2 separate regions of the Homo sapiens genome follow, and region 1 is linked to region 2. The links come from fine-mapping of genetic effects on gene expression. A gene starts in region 2. The other region holds a variant in brackets. All regions are shown on one strand. Distances are between the middles of the regions. Region 1 overlaps ASB2 (ankyrin repeat and SOCS box containing 2). Region 2 holds the start of ASB2 (ankyrin repeat and SOCS box containing 2).

Region 1 (8,000 bases), 23 kb after region 2:
CTCCAGGTCCACTGCACCTCCTGAGAGTTCGCCGGCCCGGGCCCCAATGGGCTTGTTCCAAGGGGTCATGCAGAAATACAGCAGCAGCTTGTTCAAGACCTCCCAGCTGGCGTAAGTGACTCCTGTCTGGCCCCAGGACCATCCAAGTTCACTCCGCTAACTGGGATGGCAGGGAGGGTGGGAAGCAGGCCCACAGCCCCCAGGAGGGCAGAGGGCACTATGGAGGCACCTGCCAGGCACGCTCCTTCTAGGGGTGCCCCCCTGGGGCCCCACTGCTCCTGCTGAGATGGGCTTGGTGGCCACAGACTTCAGTCCTCAAGGAACTTCCAGCCAGGCATGCTGGTGATCCCCCCCTCAGATGCCCCCAGCATGGGACCTGAGTGCTGGAGGAGCCCCATGGGGCTCTGAAACTGGGGACCCAGCACGAGGGAAATTGGGGAGATGGCCTTAGAACCCCAGAGGCCCAGGAGAGCTTGGAGTTGAACTTGATGAGTTGGCTGCACCCTTCTGTTTGTCCCAGTCTCACTTTCCCCCATGCCATCGCTGTGGGTACATCCAAAATGCCCACACCCACAGCCTTTGTTTTGTTTATTTGCCCTTATTTGTGAAGTGCCAGGTGCTAAAATCCAGAAATAATCTAAGCTGCAGGGGCTCTGTTTGCCTGGCACCAGGGGGCAGGGCTAATGCGCTCCTTAGAAAATAATTCTGCCTCCCTCCCCTCTCTGTACCCCTGGAATAGTGACCCCGGAAGCAGCCAAAAGCAAAAGAGGGACCCTATCACTGGAACTGCATTTCCTCACTCAGTTACGTTGTAGAGAAGGGAGGAGGCAATTGGCCAATATTTTCTTTCTCCTTCCCAGCCTTTTTCAAATCCTGTCGCCCTCCACTTCCTTGGTGTGGTGGGTGTGTGGAGTGGTTGACAATCTGGAAAAGGGAGACCCAGAGCTGGTCTCAGCTACTGCCACCTCCTGCATGACTGCCTGAGAGTCGCTGTCCCCTCTGAGTCTCCCTTCTCTGCAGGACACGGCTGGAGAGGGCAACGTGACCTCTAGGGTCCCGTCCAGCTTACTACTCTGATGGCCTGACACCCCCAGAACCCTCCCCCACTCATAGGGCGGGGACTTTGCCTGAGGTCATGGAGAAGCTGTGAATATGTGGGCTGAGGGCTCCAGGGTCCTTGCATCACAGCTGGAGAGACCCAAGCTGGGCGGCAGGTCCTGAAAGTGTTCTCACGACACTGCACCACGCCCTGCTCGCCAAGGCCACGAGAAAAGCCAGCCCTCCTCCCTTCCACTTCAGCTGGGGTCCCTTTGGAGACACTCCAGGAAAAGGGGGGCACATACCCCCACTGGGCTTTTCCTGATGCTGACAGGGGCTGCTCTGGCTGTTCCTAAGTGGAACTCGTCAAGGTGGCAGTGACGGTGCTGATGGGGACCTCAGGACTTATCTGATCAGTTTCCCATCGTCCTTGCTGGGTCTGTTGCTTCACCGGCATCTGTGCTCTGACACCATTAATAACCACAGAGTCTGAGAGTCAGGAGGAAGTGCTGCTCACGCTGGAGGAAGTGGCTGGGAGAGTGCAGGGGCTGGTGGCAGAGACCGCCCAGAGCCCATCCTAGCCCAACATGGCGTGGGTGTCCTGGGAATGAGGCCTGCCTCCAGCCTCACCTTCTCCATCTGGGAAATGGGACTATTGATGCAGAAGCCTCCCCAAAAGTGGATCTGAGAGGCATAGACATCGTGGTTCTCACGGACTCTCCAAGGATGAGGTAGGGAGCTCAGTGAATGAATGAAGGAAGGAAGGAAGCAATGAATGAACAAAGGGACTTTAACAAGCCAAGCAAGGAACGGCTTCACTTTAGCCCTCAAATCTTTTTGACATTCAGAAGTTTTAAACTGTGAAGGCTTCAAATTTATTAATCCTTCCAGTATATATTTTTTTTCTGCAGCTGGATGTACTGGGAGTAGGAATAAGCGACAGGGCAAGGAGAGGAGTTGGAAGACCCCAGAGATATGCTCAGGGTTAAGAGGGGGCCCCCGAGATGGGCGTGCCTGGTAAATGCTAGAGTGCTATACTCAGGGAAAGCATTTAATTATCACAAGTGCCTCACATGTGGGTGGTTAGCCACCCTCTAGGAGGCTGGCATTGTGTGCCTGAATCCTCTTGGTAGAATTGGTTTTGGTATAACATTCCCGGCAGCCATGGAAAGCCACAGAGATGGAGGGATCCCCCAGTCCTCTTGCAGCCACTGGGCTGCAGGGGGCTGAGTGCTCATCCTGGAACCAGCAGGGACGAGGACCGAGTGACTCCACTGCCAGCACTCCTGAGAGAGAGGCCCCCTGGCCTGGCCTTGGCCTGACCTTGAGGACTGACCCACTCCTTCCTCTCACAGGCCTGCGGACCCCTTGATAAAGGCCATCAAGGATGGCGATGAAGAGGCCTTGAAGACCATGATCAAGGAAGGGAAGAATCTCGCAGAGCCCAACAAGGAGGGCTGGCTGCCGCTGCACGAGGCCGCATACTATGGCCAGGTGGGCTGCCTGAAAGTCCTGCAGCGAGGTGAGGGCTGGGCTCTGACGGTGGCAAGAGGTGGGAAAGGGACTAGGGGAAGGGCTGCCGCTCCTGGGGCTTCATGTTCTTTGCCCACAATCATCTTGGGAGAAGGGCAGGCAAGGCTGTCACTTTCATTTGTCAGTTAGTCATGGAGTTACGAGAGGGGAAATGAGTTGTCCCCACCCCCTGCTGCCACCTCTCCAGGCCTCCAAGGACAGGAGAGCCTAATTCCTAGAAAAGGAATGAGGGAGGGCTGACTTTTAGAAGAACCACTGCCAACTTGTTCCAGAATGTCCCAGGGGCTGATTTGGTGTGAAAAATACTGCAGCTGTGCCTGTGCCCGGCCAAGGCTATCCCCCACCTGCTGTGGGACCGCGGGACAGCCGTGCCTCCTCTCTGAGCCCTGTCTTCCTACTGAGCCAGGTTCAGAAGGGCAACTCCTGCAGGCAGGTGTCACCTCTGCCCTGAAGCAGCACAGACCCCACACGGCCCCCGACACTCCAAGAAACCATGGCATGTAACAGTGGGTTTCCAGCAATGGCTGGTGTGAGTTCGAGGAAAGGACAGGAGTATTCGAAGAGGGAGGGGCTCCATTAGGGAAGGCTTCTCAGAGGACGTGGCATCTGAGCTTGGACGTGTACGACCAGGAAGCTAAAATGGCCCTGTGAAAGGGCCAGATGAATGCAGTCTGTAGTTGGTAAATTTCAGAGGATGTCATACATTGTTCTTGAAATTGGGAGGCAATCGGGAAAGCCTCTGTGTTGCGGGGCTGAGTATCTTTCTCCTACATGAATTTCCCGGTGGGCCCTCCCTAGCGTACCCAGGGACCATCGACCAGCGCACCCTGCAGGAGGAAACAGCCGTTTACTTGGCAACGTGCAGGGGCCACCTGGACTGTCTCCTGTCACTGCTCCAAGCAGGGGCAGAGCCGGACATCTCCAACAAATCCCGAGAGACACCGCTCTACAAAGGTGAGGTCCCCACCCCGGAGTGAGCTTTCCTG[C/A]GGAAGAATCCAGAAGCTGGGTGAGCAACAGGGAATGTTGCTCCCGTTAAGTGCATAACCCCCAACGTGGCCCTGCTCAAATGCACAATTTATGTAACTGAATCATTCATTCCTGCATGTATTTTACCAACATTTTCCAACTGCATCCCATGGGCCAGGATGCTGAGGGACACTGAGGGCTTGGAGCTGAAAAGCTATAGTCCAACCTGTGCACCCTCCCAGCCCTGTAGGCACCCACACACAGAGAGCAGGAAAGGGCTTGGCAGGAGGCATTGTGGGAGCATGGGGGAGGGGCACCCAGAGGAGGGGTGCCTGAGCTGAACCACAGAGGAGGAATCACCTGCTGGCCAAGCAGCGGGAACCGCACAGGCAAAGGCATGAAGGTATGCGAGAGCATGTACCTCTGGGACATTTGTTTAAGAAAAACAAGGCCTCCTGGCTTACTCAGTACATCATCCATGGACATTTGTTGGCTGCCCTAGCAGTACCCAGAGTCAAAGTCTAAATAATCACAATAGCTAGCATTGATTGAGTGTTTAGTATGTGCCAGGCACCGTTCTCTTATGGACCCCTCATGTCCATCTGCACATGAAGTAGGCACTGCTGGTATCCCCTTTCACATATGAGGACCTAAGGCACCAAGACATTAAATGGGTCGCCCAGGATCACACAGCTTGCAAGGGGTACCCCAGTGGTTTAAACTCAGGGAGGTGGATGTCACACTGCCCTCAACTACTACATTCTAAAGCATCCTGTCCATGCCTACATGCTGAAGCAATCAGCTGGGGTCTTACAAATGATCAGGCCTTTGTACTTGGAAAAATTACAGATATCCCTGATTTCCCATGTGTCTATCCAGTGCTTGGAACAGCTTGGGCAGCAGGAACTGAGTAGTAGGTCACTGGATCCGCTGCAGACCCACCATGGAAGTGTCTTCCCTGGAATCCGTGCCTGCCAGGGCGCCATGGCTATCACCTGGAACCTCAGCTGTCCAAAGGGAGTGCCCAGGAAGCTGGGCAGCCCACAGCCAGAGCTTGGCCCTGGTCTTGCAAGCACACCTACTATGTGCCAAGCACTATGCTCATGCCTTACACACAGTCTCACTCCCATAGCATCTGCTCAAGAAGGTTTTATTCTCTCCATTTTACAGATGAGAAAGTCAAGGCTTAGAGAGGTAGAAGGCTTGGCCTATGGTTCTATTTGAAACAGTACACAGGCAGCCCTCCTCCCCCTGCTGCCAGTCTCCCTGACCCATTCCTCACTCCTCCTCCCACTGACACGGACACAGAGAAGCTTCCAGGGCTGGTTAATTTGGAAAAGTGCCCAGGTGACTCCAATACCACCTGCAGCTCCTGGTGAGAACTCTGGGGCCAGAGCCAAGGGCACGTTTGGGGTCTAGAGAGAGATGAGGCTTATAAAGGAGGTTAGAGCAGGTCAAGAAAGACTTGAGGAGCTGTACTCACAACGTGCATTTTACCCTGAACTAAATTAGTAGCCTTTGCTGGAGCAGGGGGAAGTTCAGCAGGATTATGACACCGCTGACTCCTCATCTAGAAAGATTCTTCCAGCCTTGGTAATGTGGAGGACTGAAGCAGGTACCACTGGAAGGGGAAATGATAGGGACATCCTGGGACATCCCAGGGGACAGAGACCTTCAGCCTGACTACCAGGGTTTGAATTCCAGTTCTGCCACTTAGTATCTGTGTGACTTTGGGCAAGCCACTTACCCTCTCTGTGCCTCACCTTCCTTATCTGTGAAAGGGGATAACATCACTACATCCTTTAAGGGGATTTGGGAGGATTAAATTAGTTAATCCTGTAAAATGTGCTTAGAACAGAGAGCCTGGCACAGAACCAGTACTAGGCATATGAATCAGCAAGTATTCTTGCTAATGTTAGTATCAGTATTACTTTTAGTCGCCTATCCCAGGTTCAATGCAGGGATTGGAACTTAATACACATGCAGTGGAAAGCTGAATGAGTGGATGAGTGAATGGACAGGCGAATGAATGCAGTCTCTGCTGGCCAGTTCCTGCCAGGCCCTGCTGACCATCCCTGCTTCCCCCTGAGCACAGCCTGCGAGCGCAAGAACGCGGAGGCCGTGAAGATTCTGGTGCAGCACAATGCAGACACCAACCACCGCTGCAACCGCGGCTGGACCGCTCTGCACGAGTCTGTGTCTCGCAATGACCTGGAGGTCATGCAGATCCTGGTGAGCGGAGGAGCCAAGGTGGAATCCAAGAACGCCTACGGCATCACCCCCTTGTTCGTGGCCGCCCAGAGTGGACAGTTGGAGGCCTTGAGGTTCTTAGCCAAGTACGGTGAGTGGCTAAGGGTCCCTAGGTCATGGAGTCCCCAAAGGGCACACGGGAAGGATGTCAGAGGTCAGCTCTAAGGGAAGGCGAGTTAGGGGTCATCTTGTGCGCACACTGATGGAGTGAGAGTTTCCTCCTAGAGTGCTGTGTTGAGAAAGATGCTGAGGCTGTGTCCAGGCTCAGTGGGAAGAGCGTCGGGATCCACTAGTGACATCTGCCATTAGAACAAATATGGGGGGGTCTGGCCCACGGACCACCTATTTGCCATTTATAATCTAGTCCAACATTTTCATTTTACAAACGAGGAGTCTGAGGCACAGAGTGAGGAAGTGACTTATCTATAGTCCTATAGCAAATTAATTGTAGAACTAGCTAGACTCTTGGTCTCCTGACACCCCAACCGCTTCTCTTTCCACCACATCACACTTCAGGGCCAGAAGGAACCTCAAGCAACATTTAGATCACCTCCCCCTTTTATGGGTGATGAACTCAAGGACCAGGATGGGAAAGTGATTTGTCCAAGGTCACACAGCAAATTAGTGGCAGAGCTGGGACTTGAACCCAGCTCTTTGCCCTCTTTGCCTGTGAAATATCTTAATGGGAGAAAATAACACAATACGGCCTGCATTATGATGGCCCAGTAGCAAAAGACCACGAGACATGGCAGACTTGCTTTTGGTTTCAGAACATTATATCCTGATCTTCCCCAAGAATGCCTTTGATTTCTTTTCTCTCTCCACGGGAAGTAACCCTCTCTCTAGCAACAGAGAAGCCAGAGGTAATCCAGACGCTGAGGCTGAACTGTAGGAATCTGTTGAGGACTTGCTAAGTGTGAACACAGATCGGGGCAATGGAGCTTTCCCCGTAGCCCCATGTGGTAGGTAGTATGCTCGTCCCATTTTATAGATGAAGAGACTGAGGTTCAGAGAGGTTAACTAATTGGTCACAGTCCAAGCCTGGATGCTGACCCACTGCCATCTGACTCCAAACTGCACATGCTTTGTGCTCTGCCAGCCACCCTACCCTGTGAGAGTCGGCAGCACGGGACTCTGCCCAGGTAAGCATCCATGCACTCAGCACGCGCCTGAGCAGTGGGGAACATAGGTGCAGGCCCTTCCGTGCAGCCAGGAACAAATCTGGACTGCCCAGCGTAAGAACAAAGGGGCACAGGCAGGGTCCTGGGAGCCCAGGCCGGGGGTCCTGGTGACGGACAGCATGCTCAGCAGGCAAGGGTGACCTCAATAACTCCAAACATCTGTCCAGGTCTCCCACCGACACTCTGAGTCAGGGTGTGTTCACTTTGTGGGCTGAGTCCATTTTCCAACCCAAATATTTTTCTTGTGCAAGCAGGCGGCTTTGCTGGTAGGGTCCAGGCTCTCCAGGGCACCTGCCTCTGAGAGCCCAACAGAGGGTTAGGGCGGCTCACTGGCTCTCCCTCAGGCCGGAGGCAGGACGAAGGCCTCTGCCCAGCTCCTTCCATCCTGAGCAACTGGCATTTGCTGAGCAGCTTCCCTGTGGCAGGCACTGCGCTGAGAGATGTGCTTACACTATTTTGTTTACTCCCTGCAGTAACCCCGAGGGGTAGGTACTATTATCCCTGGTCAACAGATGAGAAAACCGAGGCTCCTAAAGGCTTTCTGAGACTGCAGAGCTTGTGAGCCATGAAACAGATGCCTCAGCTGATTCTCATCTGTCGCCAAAGCCTGTGCTGTTTCCGCTGGATCAGAAACTGGTCACACCATCATCAAAAATAATAAATTACCAGAAAGCCTGAGATCAGCAACATGCTTAGAGAGATGACCTGTGGTTAGCAGATGCTTTTGATTTTAGCCCCACTGACATCTTCAAGCATCTTAGTTCCATGTCCTTCCAGAACAAGGAAGGACTGCTGAATTCTCTTTCTGCAGAGAAAGCTGTGTGCACATCAGTTCTCCCCCTCACCCCCTGCCCGAGGAGATGAAGCAGGTGTAGAAGACTGAGCTGAAGGCAGATTGTCACCAGGCCTGATTCCTCCTTCTAGCAGCATGGATTAATGTTTTCTGGGTTTTGTTTTGTTTTTGTTTTGGGAACAGGGTCTCACTTTGTTGTCCAGGCTGGAGTGCAGTGGTGTGATCCCGGCTCACTGCCG
Region 2 (8,000 bases):
GGAGGCTGAAGCGGGCAGATCACCTGAGGTCAGGAGTTCGATACCAGCCTGGCCAACATGGTGAAACCCCATCTCTACTAAAAATACAAAAAAAATAGCTGGGCGTGGTGGTGGGCACCTGTAATCCTAGCTACTTGGGAGGCCGAGGCAAGAGAATCGCTTGAATCCAGAAGGTGGAGGTTGCAGTGAGTCGAGATCTCACCACTGCGCTTCAGCCTGGGCAACAGAGCAGGACTCCATCTCAAAAAAAAAAAGAAAAAAGATGGAATCTACCAATTGTTGGTAAGGATATAGAGTGACTGGAACTCTTATGCCTGGTTGATGGGAGTGCAAACTGACACAACTTTGGAAAGCCATGTGACAGTTTCACTCAAGTTGAAAGAAGACCTAAACTCTGACCCAGTGATCCCCATCCTAGGTGTATACCCAAGAGAAAGGAGTATGAATATTTACCAAAAGACATGTACTAGAATGTTCATAGCTACACTCTTCATCATCGCCCAAAACTGGGAACCACCCAGATGTCCATCAACAGTAGAATGAATAAATTGTGATATATTCATAGCATGGAATACTACACAGCAATTAAAATAACAATCTACAACTCCATGAAACAATATGGGCAGGTCTCGCAATGTGTTGTTAAATGAAACGAGACGCAATGATTTCATTCACATGAAGTTCAAAGGAACCTGTCCTGCTAGCAGTCAGGAGAGTGGTCACCCCTGGCAGGAGGTGGTGGGTGGTGGGAGCTCTTGAGGTGCTTGTAATATTCAGATGTTGGGTGTGTCCAGTCTGTGAAAATGTACTGGGCTGTACATATGTGAAAGTTGCACTTTTTTGTGGGTATACTGAACTTTAATAAAAAGTTTTTAAAAATCAGTCCTGTTTGGGCCTCGACACAGATTATTTAAATCAGAATCTCTGGGGTGGGGCAGGCATAGGTAAGTGTAATATGATTCTAATGAGCAGCTAGGGCCAGATCCCAGCACAGTTCTCTTTCCTCTGGGTCACACTGCCTGCCCTCCACAGGCTCGAGTCAGATGCTTGAACGCTGTCCCTGCCTTTGTCAGGAGAGTGTCTGTGCTTTAGGACATCAGCGTCTGATCCCATGGGGCATGGTTCCCACTGGCATGGCTTTCAATGTGTGAATTATTCTGCCCCCAAATTGCCAGGTGATCTCAGAGAAGGCACAGAACCTCTTGGGGCCTGAACTAGTAAATGAGGGCTCTGAACACCAGGATAGCCAAGAGTCCCTCCAGTTAGAGGGACCACAATTCCCCTGTAAGACAGAATCTCAGCCAAAAGGAGCTTCTGGTCTGATAAACCCAAGAACTGGGAAATGACTTGGGACTACATTCTTTTGTAAAGAGTGAGGTAAAAAAAAATTTAGTTTGAATCTGTTTTTCTTCTTTTAAATGGAAACAAAGACAAGTGGAAAGTCAGAAAAAAGTTCACGGGTAGCACACGAGAGCTGAGGAGCATGCAGCTGAGACCGCAGTGAATATTTGGTGAGTGTCTGGGTTGATTATTACTACATATCAAACTACCTCAATCCCCAGTGGCACGAAACAATCCTTTTATCATAGCTTGTGGTTTATGGGTCAGGAAGTTGTGGGTGGTTTGTCTCTGCTCCACGTGGCATTAGCTGTGGCAGCTGCAGGTGAAGGATCCACCTCCGAGAGGGTGTCTTCACCCCTCTGCCTGGTGCTAGATGCTCTGGGGGCCCTGGGTGTTGCTTGCTTGGACTTCCTCACAACATGGCAGCTACAAAGCATCTCATGACCTAGCCTTGGAAGTCTCAGGACATCATTTCCACTGCATTCTATTGTTAAGTCCATCACTAGGCCACCCCATATTCAAGGGGAGGGAAGGAATAGACACATCTTGGATGGAGTTTGGGGTGTGTATGTGTGTGTGTGTGTGTGCATGTGTGCATGCCCATGAGGCAGAGGGCAACCTAGGAGGGGCCTGGCCTGGCCACAGCCCACCTTCCAGGTCAGATTGGGAAGGGGCAGGTGGTGGGCAGGAAGTAGAGGAACCTGTGTTTTGCCTCCAGCAAGGAGCCCAGGAAAGCAGCCCGGCCTCGGGGAGCCGTCCCACAGAGACGTCTCTCGGGGAACATCCTACTGGGTAGCAGAGTCTCCAAAAAGTAAAAAGAATCTGACAGCCCCTTCTCTGCCCTTCTCCTACACTCCCTCCATAGCACATGGGTCTGGAAGGGGCTGAACTTGAGCTAACTTTGAGGGCCACCCAGCCACAGTGGCCTGGGAAGACTGACCCAGCTGGGGTGATGAGCAATTTGGCAGGTACCAGGGAAGCTGGGGGACTGCCTGGGGACCACTGGTGTCCTTCCCATCTTTAGCACCAGTCAGACCTCCAGAACCTTGACTCAACCCCGTGGCACCTTGTATACTGAGATGTATTTCCTTGTGGAATATTCGAAGTGCGTGTAAAGGCATCCTGAGGTTTCCTGAGTTTGAATCAGTGAGAAATCATGCTGTGGCCATCATAAATCCACATCCTCCAAGGGGAATGGGCCACTGAAACAAAAATGATTCTCCCCTTAGAGGAACAGACCAAGTCATGTTTCTGGACCCCTAACTCTGAGGCATGAGATGTGAACACACGGGTGGGAGAGTAGGTGCCTGGCCATGTCCTGTCACATCCCGGATGCTCAGTGCATGTGGCTGTGTATGTGTTGTCTTTGACATTTGACCTATTCCAGAAATGGGACGTTCTTCCCTAGACCAGGAGGAAGGGCTCTCTTCTGTTGTATATCTCTGCCCAGGGCTTGCCCGCATGCCTCTGTGTTTGTTTGTTGGCTCATTTGTACCCTGGCCCTTTGTATCCCCAGCCCCACCCCACAGTATCCAGCAGCCAGACACCTGCTATCCCCAAATGCTGCCACAAGCTCAGCACCAAACCTTGATTTCTCCAAAGCCCTTTTACGTCAACTCCTTCATCTCCTCTCTCCCCTTCTTCCCTTCTCTTTCACTCCATCCTCTTCCTTCCTGCTGTCTTGCCTTCCCTCCTTTGTTGCCTTTACTTCTCCTCTTCCCCTTTCTTCCTCCTCCCTTGCTCCTCACTCTTTGTCTCCCAACTATGCGTCTCCTCGTCCTCGTTCCCTGCCTCTGTCTCTGACCCACTGCATCTCTCTCCTGTCTGGCTCTCCCCTGGGTAGTTCCAGAAACATACCCATATATGGCCTCCATGTCAAGGATCACAAATGATGACATCACGTGAGGGCCAAAGCTCCGGGATCCTCTCTGAAGTGAGAGTCTGTATTCGATGCACCCGGAGGAACGGAAGGCAGGATTGCAGCTTCCTCAGTGCAACCTCCAAACAGGAAATCTGAGATGTATAACATCTTATAGTTTGGCTTGTCAACGTTGGTCATGCGGTGGCCCCAAAATAAACTCCCTGCTTCAAAGGACAGCGTTTCAGAACTGCCTGGCAGAGCAGCCAGAAGCTTGGGGCCAGGGCAGAAGGAAAACTCGGGGAGCATGTTCTGAATTAAGACACTTTCAAGAAAATCCTTTGTATTACCCCTGAATTGTACCCTTGTTTCAGAGCCTAACAGGTAATGCATGCTTTCAACTTTCTTATACAGATCTTGCAAAAGATTCTTTGGCTGGTGGGGATTTTCGGCTGCAGTACTTACTGGAAACCGCTTGTAGTCAAACTGTGATGTTGCTTTTCCCTCTCTCTCGTATTTTCTTGAGTTATACAGCACGCTGGTGACTTTCGTTTTGGATGCAATGAACAGAGACTCAGCAATTTGCATGTACTTACCCATTCTTCTGGAGGACTCTGGCTCAGAATATCACTCTGCTGTGCACTTCTAAAAATGGAAATGCAAAAGGACTTATCAATGATGCTATTGTTGGGTCTGTAGGTCTTGGGCGGTATCTGTGTCAGACAAGTGACTTTCAGAAATGCTTTCAGGCCAGGCGCACAGATAGAGGTTTTCATGAGTGGGAGTTAATTTAATGTAGCTGTTGCAGAGTGCCTAGGCATGCACGGTATTGTGGGAGACCATAGCAGCCAAGGTGCCATGTGCTCTGCTTTCAACTGTTTGGGGATTAGGAGAGGAAATGGAGGAATGTTATTTATGTGAGATCCAACAAAGCTGTGGAATGCAGGGATGCAAGAATACCATGCATGTGTGTGCACACGCATATGCATGACACATTTAAGGAGGCCATGGCCTTTGAAAGGATGGGTGGGATGCCTCAGGGTGGAAACAGAGACCTCCAGGTGGAGGAGCAGCTTGGGCAAAGGCAGGGAAGTCAAGGGACCTGGGGTGATGATGGAAAGTGAAATGTGGCTCTGGCAAAGGGTTCTGCATGTGAAAAATGGGGGTGAGGCTAGAAGGGGAGGCCAGAGGGAGAGGCACATCCTTCCAGGCCAAGCAAGAAGTTGGAACACTTTCTGAGAGTTTTTGAGCAGAGGACGGCATGCACATAGCCACATGCATTGAGCATCTGGGATATGAAGGGACACAGCCAGGCACCTACACTCCCACCCGTGTGTTCACATCTCAGGCCCCAGAGGTGGAGGCCCAGAAACATGACTTGGTTTCTGGTGCCTCTAGGTGGAGAATCATTTTCATTTCAGTGGCCCATTCCCCTTGGAGGATGTGAGATTTGGCTTCGGTGGCTCTTCGGGAAGCCAGGGGTATGCACTGGAATGAGGAGGCAAGGAGGCTGGTGACTCCTAGGGAGGGCAGGTAAATGAGGAAGGCCTGAAGCAGGGCAGAAGCTGAGCCCCTGCACAGGACAGGAATGCTCTTCTGAAGATAAGCTTGTTTCGTGAGGCGAGGGCTTGAGGGGGCTCAGAGGGACGCAGGCAGAGCCAGCTGGGGCCAGCACCCCCGCCACAGCCCTGACCTCTGCCTGGGCAGAAGCACCATGAGGCAGACAGTGGCAGATGCTCGAGGCACTTCCAAAACAGTTGGACGGGTCCTGACAGCTGGTGGCAGGCCCATGTGCTGCACAGCGTCCCCAAGAAGCTGGCAGCAGCTCCGCTGGGTGCCATGCTGGTTTGCATCATCTGTTCTTGCACAAACAGGCCGGGTCATGAGTGCCTTGTGGTGGCGGGGGTGGGGGACACTGTCTAACCCACGCACGGTGACCTCACAGTGAACAACAACACAGGCCATACCAGCAAGCCTTTGTTGAGCACTGGCCCAAGCTTGTGTGCAGATTTCTCTCACTGACTTCGGTCAAGGCTACCATGAGTTACAGGTGATCGTTACTCCCATTTTCAGGTCTGGAAACAGGTTATGAGAGCTTAAAAGTCTTGCTTAAGGCTGGACGGCTGCAAGTGTTGGAGTCAGGAATCTGACCTTTTGGTCTGCAAGGTCCACATTCAAAGCCACAGCGTCCTGTGGCCTCTCAAGGTACTGTGGCAGTGGTAAACAGGACCATCGTGCACCCAGGGGAAATGTCTCTGGCACACTCAAGGCATCATAAGGTGCCCGTATATTGTGGACAGGCTAGATCCAAAGAGCCTTCCCAAAGGAGGCACAAAAATATCTCTGGGCCTGCCCAGTGTCCTTCCATTTCTGCGCTGCAGAGGATCAGGCTGCCCACAGGAGCCAGCTGTCACAGGAGTGGCTTGTGTCTGTGGTTCTCTTTCCTTAGCACCATTGTTTGGAATAATTAACGCCCAGGAATATAAATGAAGTTATTAAGAGCTTTGTGGTTGGGAGGAATGTTTTTGGGGAGGTGGTGCTGAAATAAAGGTAAATTGAAATTCCTAAACTATCTGTTTTTTAAAAAGAATGGGACATAGAGGAGTAAAAAAGGAGAGAGGAAAGCAGAGAAAAGAGAAGAGAAAGATTTAAATGGAGGCGGGGTCAGGGGAACTCAGAGGAGAGAGGATAAAAAAGGAAAAAGAACCTCGCCGATTTGGGTGAGATCTAACTTAAAAGATTTCCAGCCAGCCCTGCAGGTGAGGAGGGGCTATGGAGGATTCCCCCTGCCCTGCCTGAGCCTTCCCGCTCTGCTGCCTGGAGTTAAAGCCTCCAGAACCCCCTGTGTCTTCTGCCACTAAGGAACCAAGGTGAGGGTCCGCCGTCTTTGTCTGCCCAAAGGACAGAACAGGGCTAGGCGGGCTGTGCTAGGGCAGGGGTGCTGGGGAGGCTCAGAGGTGGACTGACCAGCCCCGTCCACCCCTGTCACCCCCACCTTTGGTCACTGGCACAGATGGCAGATCCTGGCATTGGTAGTGCCTGGGCAGAATATGGGTCAGGGGCCTGGAATCCTGTGTCCTGAGCTGTGAGTGTCTGAGCCACACAGATGCGGGGAGGGGCCAGCCTCTGGCAGGGCCAGGAGGCAGCAGAAGGGCCCTTCACTCAGGAGGTGGAGACGAAGGTCACCCATGGGCCTGGAGACTCAATAGCTCAGGGGCCCAAAGAAGTAAACTGGAAGCTTGACTTTTGTGGGTGCTTTTCTTAGCTGGTGGTGTGGGCACTGCCGCAGGTAGTGGGCATGTCCTGTGCAGAATGGATGCTCATCATTGCAACAGGGCACTTTCCACATTCAAAAAACCTTCTACAGGGAGGTTTTTCCTGTGTTTTTCCTTCTTCCCTCTCTTCCTCTCACCATCATTCTTGCTCTCTTTTTGGAGTGGCATCCTCAATGTACATCAATAAGTAAATAAATTACCAAGACTTTTCGTTAGGGTCTTAGACTCTTCGGGAGAGATTCACCAAGATTTGGATCAGCAAGAGGCGCTCCATTTCAGATGCAGCCTCAGTCTCCTCCTCTATACAATGGGCACAGAGTGTCTGCTGGCGTGGGAGCAGAGCCAGCTTTGGACAGGTTCAAATCCCTGGTTGTCACCTCCTACAGGGTTATGTAGGGGCAGTCACACCCCTACTCCATACAAAGAGAAGAGCCCTGTCTTGTGGAGTCAGCTGGGGCCTGCAGCCCTGAGCACACCTCTTGAGTCACCTCCAGCAGCCCCAGCCCAGCCTTGGAAGCCCCAAGGCCCTGGCACCCGAAAGCCGGGAGCTTGAAATCAGCATCAAAAGGTCTGAGATGACGCAGCCGGTGGTGGTGGTGGCTGGGGGTAAACTGGAAGCTTGGCCTTTGTGGGTGCTTTCCTTAGCTGATGGTGTGGGTCTGAGCAAAGGCTCAAACTCCTAGCAGCTGTGAGGCCCTAGACACCAGGCCCCAGGGCAGCCAGAGGCTTGAGAGCACTGCCCCCATGGCCAAAGGCCCACCCTGGCTACGACTTGGCCACTCATAGGGGTCAAGGGCAAGGTGGCTGGGATTCCATCCCCCCTTCCTTACCAAGGTCAGAGCATTTCTTAGCCAGAGCAGAGATGAAGCCTCCAGAGGGATGAGGTTTAGGGTCACGGAGCAACTGACTCCTTGCCATGCCCTTAATGTTGTGTCAGAGGGCCTGATGAAGACGGCGCAGGCTGACGTGGTCTCAACCTCTGTACCACATACATTCCAGGCCTTAGTCTCCTCATCCGCGCCATGGGAAGACCACTCTTCTCCCTAGTACTGAAAAAGTAAAATGAGGCAACCTATGAAAGTGGCCTGGATGGAGACAGGACAAGGACCCACAGGCACCAGCTTAATTTTTATTGATTAGGTTCTAAAACAACAGGACCCGGGAAGGGAAGAGAACAATGTCCTACACCTCCGAGCACTCCAGCTGGAAGCGTTTCCTTGGGTTTCCTAGGACCACCCTGGATCCTGGGGGGAAAGGCAGATCAGAAAGATAAGTTTTGGCAGAAGGAGAGAGCATTGCAAGGAAGGAGGTCGAGCGCCCTGGGTGCCAAGGAACAGCCCAGTTCCTGACTCCTCGTGTGTCCCCAGGCTAGCCCAAGCAGCCAGGTTTCAGGATTGCCTTAGCTACGGGTCATGTGATATTTGGGAGACCTTGAAGCTTTTGGAGTAGATTTATAGAAAGTATGTATATGTGTGTATATTATATATATAATATATATTATATTATTAATATAAAAATATATAATT

The links. PIP is the estimated chance that this variant, and not a neighbour inherited with it, causes the effect. A credible set is the group of variants that fine-mapping cannot tell apart.
Region 1: its variant is the best candidate, but not a certain one, in a credible set for the expression of ASB2 in whole blood (TOPMed, PIP 0.74).

The regions. Positions count from the first base shown.
Region 1 is chr14:93,948,877-93,956,876 of GRCh38, reverse strand. ASB2 (ankyrin repeat and SOCS box containing 2) reads left to right here. Exons shown (of 10, transcript NM_001202429.2): 3 at 7-111; 4 at 2,394-2,560; 5 at 3,370-3,525; 6 at 5,633-5,878. Among named protein-coding and RNA genes, the nearest start is that of MIR4506, 4.6 kb to the right of the region's middle. RefSeq lists enhancers at 480-1,184, 1,185-1,891, 2,002-2,979. The variant C/A (reference allele first, on the strand shown) is at 3,558.
Region 2 is chr14:93,972,017-93,980,016 of GRCh38, reverse strand. ASB2 (ankyrin repeat and SOCS box containing 2) reads left to right here and starts at 3,447. Exons shown (of 10, transcript NM_001202429.2): 1 at 3,447-3,583. It overlaps LOC107984663 (a long non-coding RNA gene), which reads left to right. Exons shown (of 4, transcript XR_001750861.2): 4 at 1-2,592. RefSeq lists an enhancer at 4,395-4,966.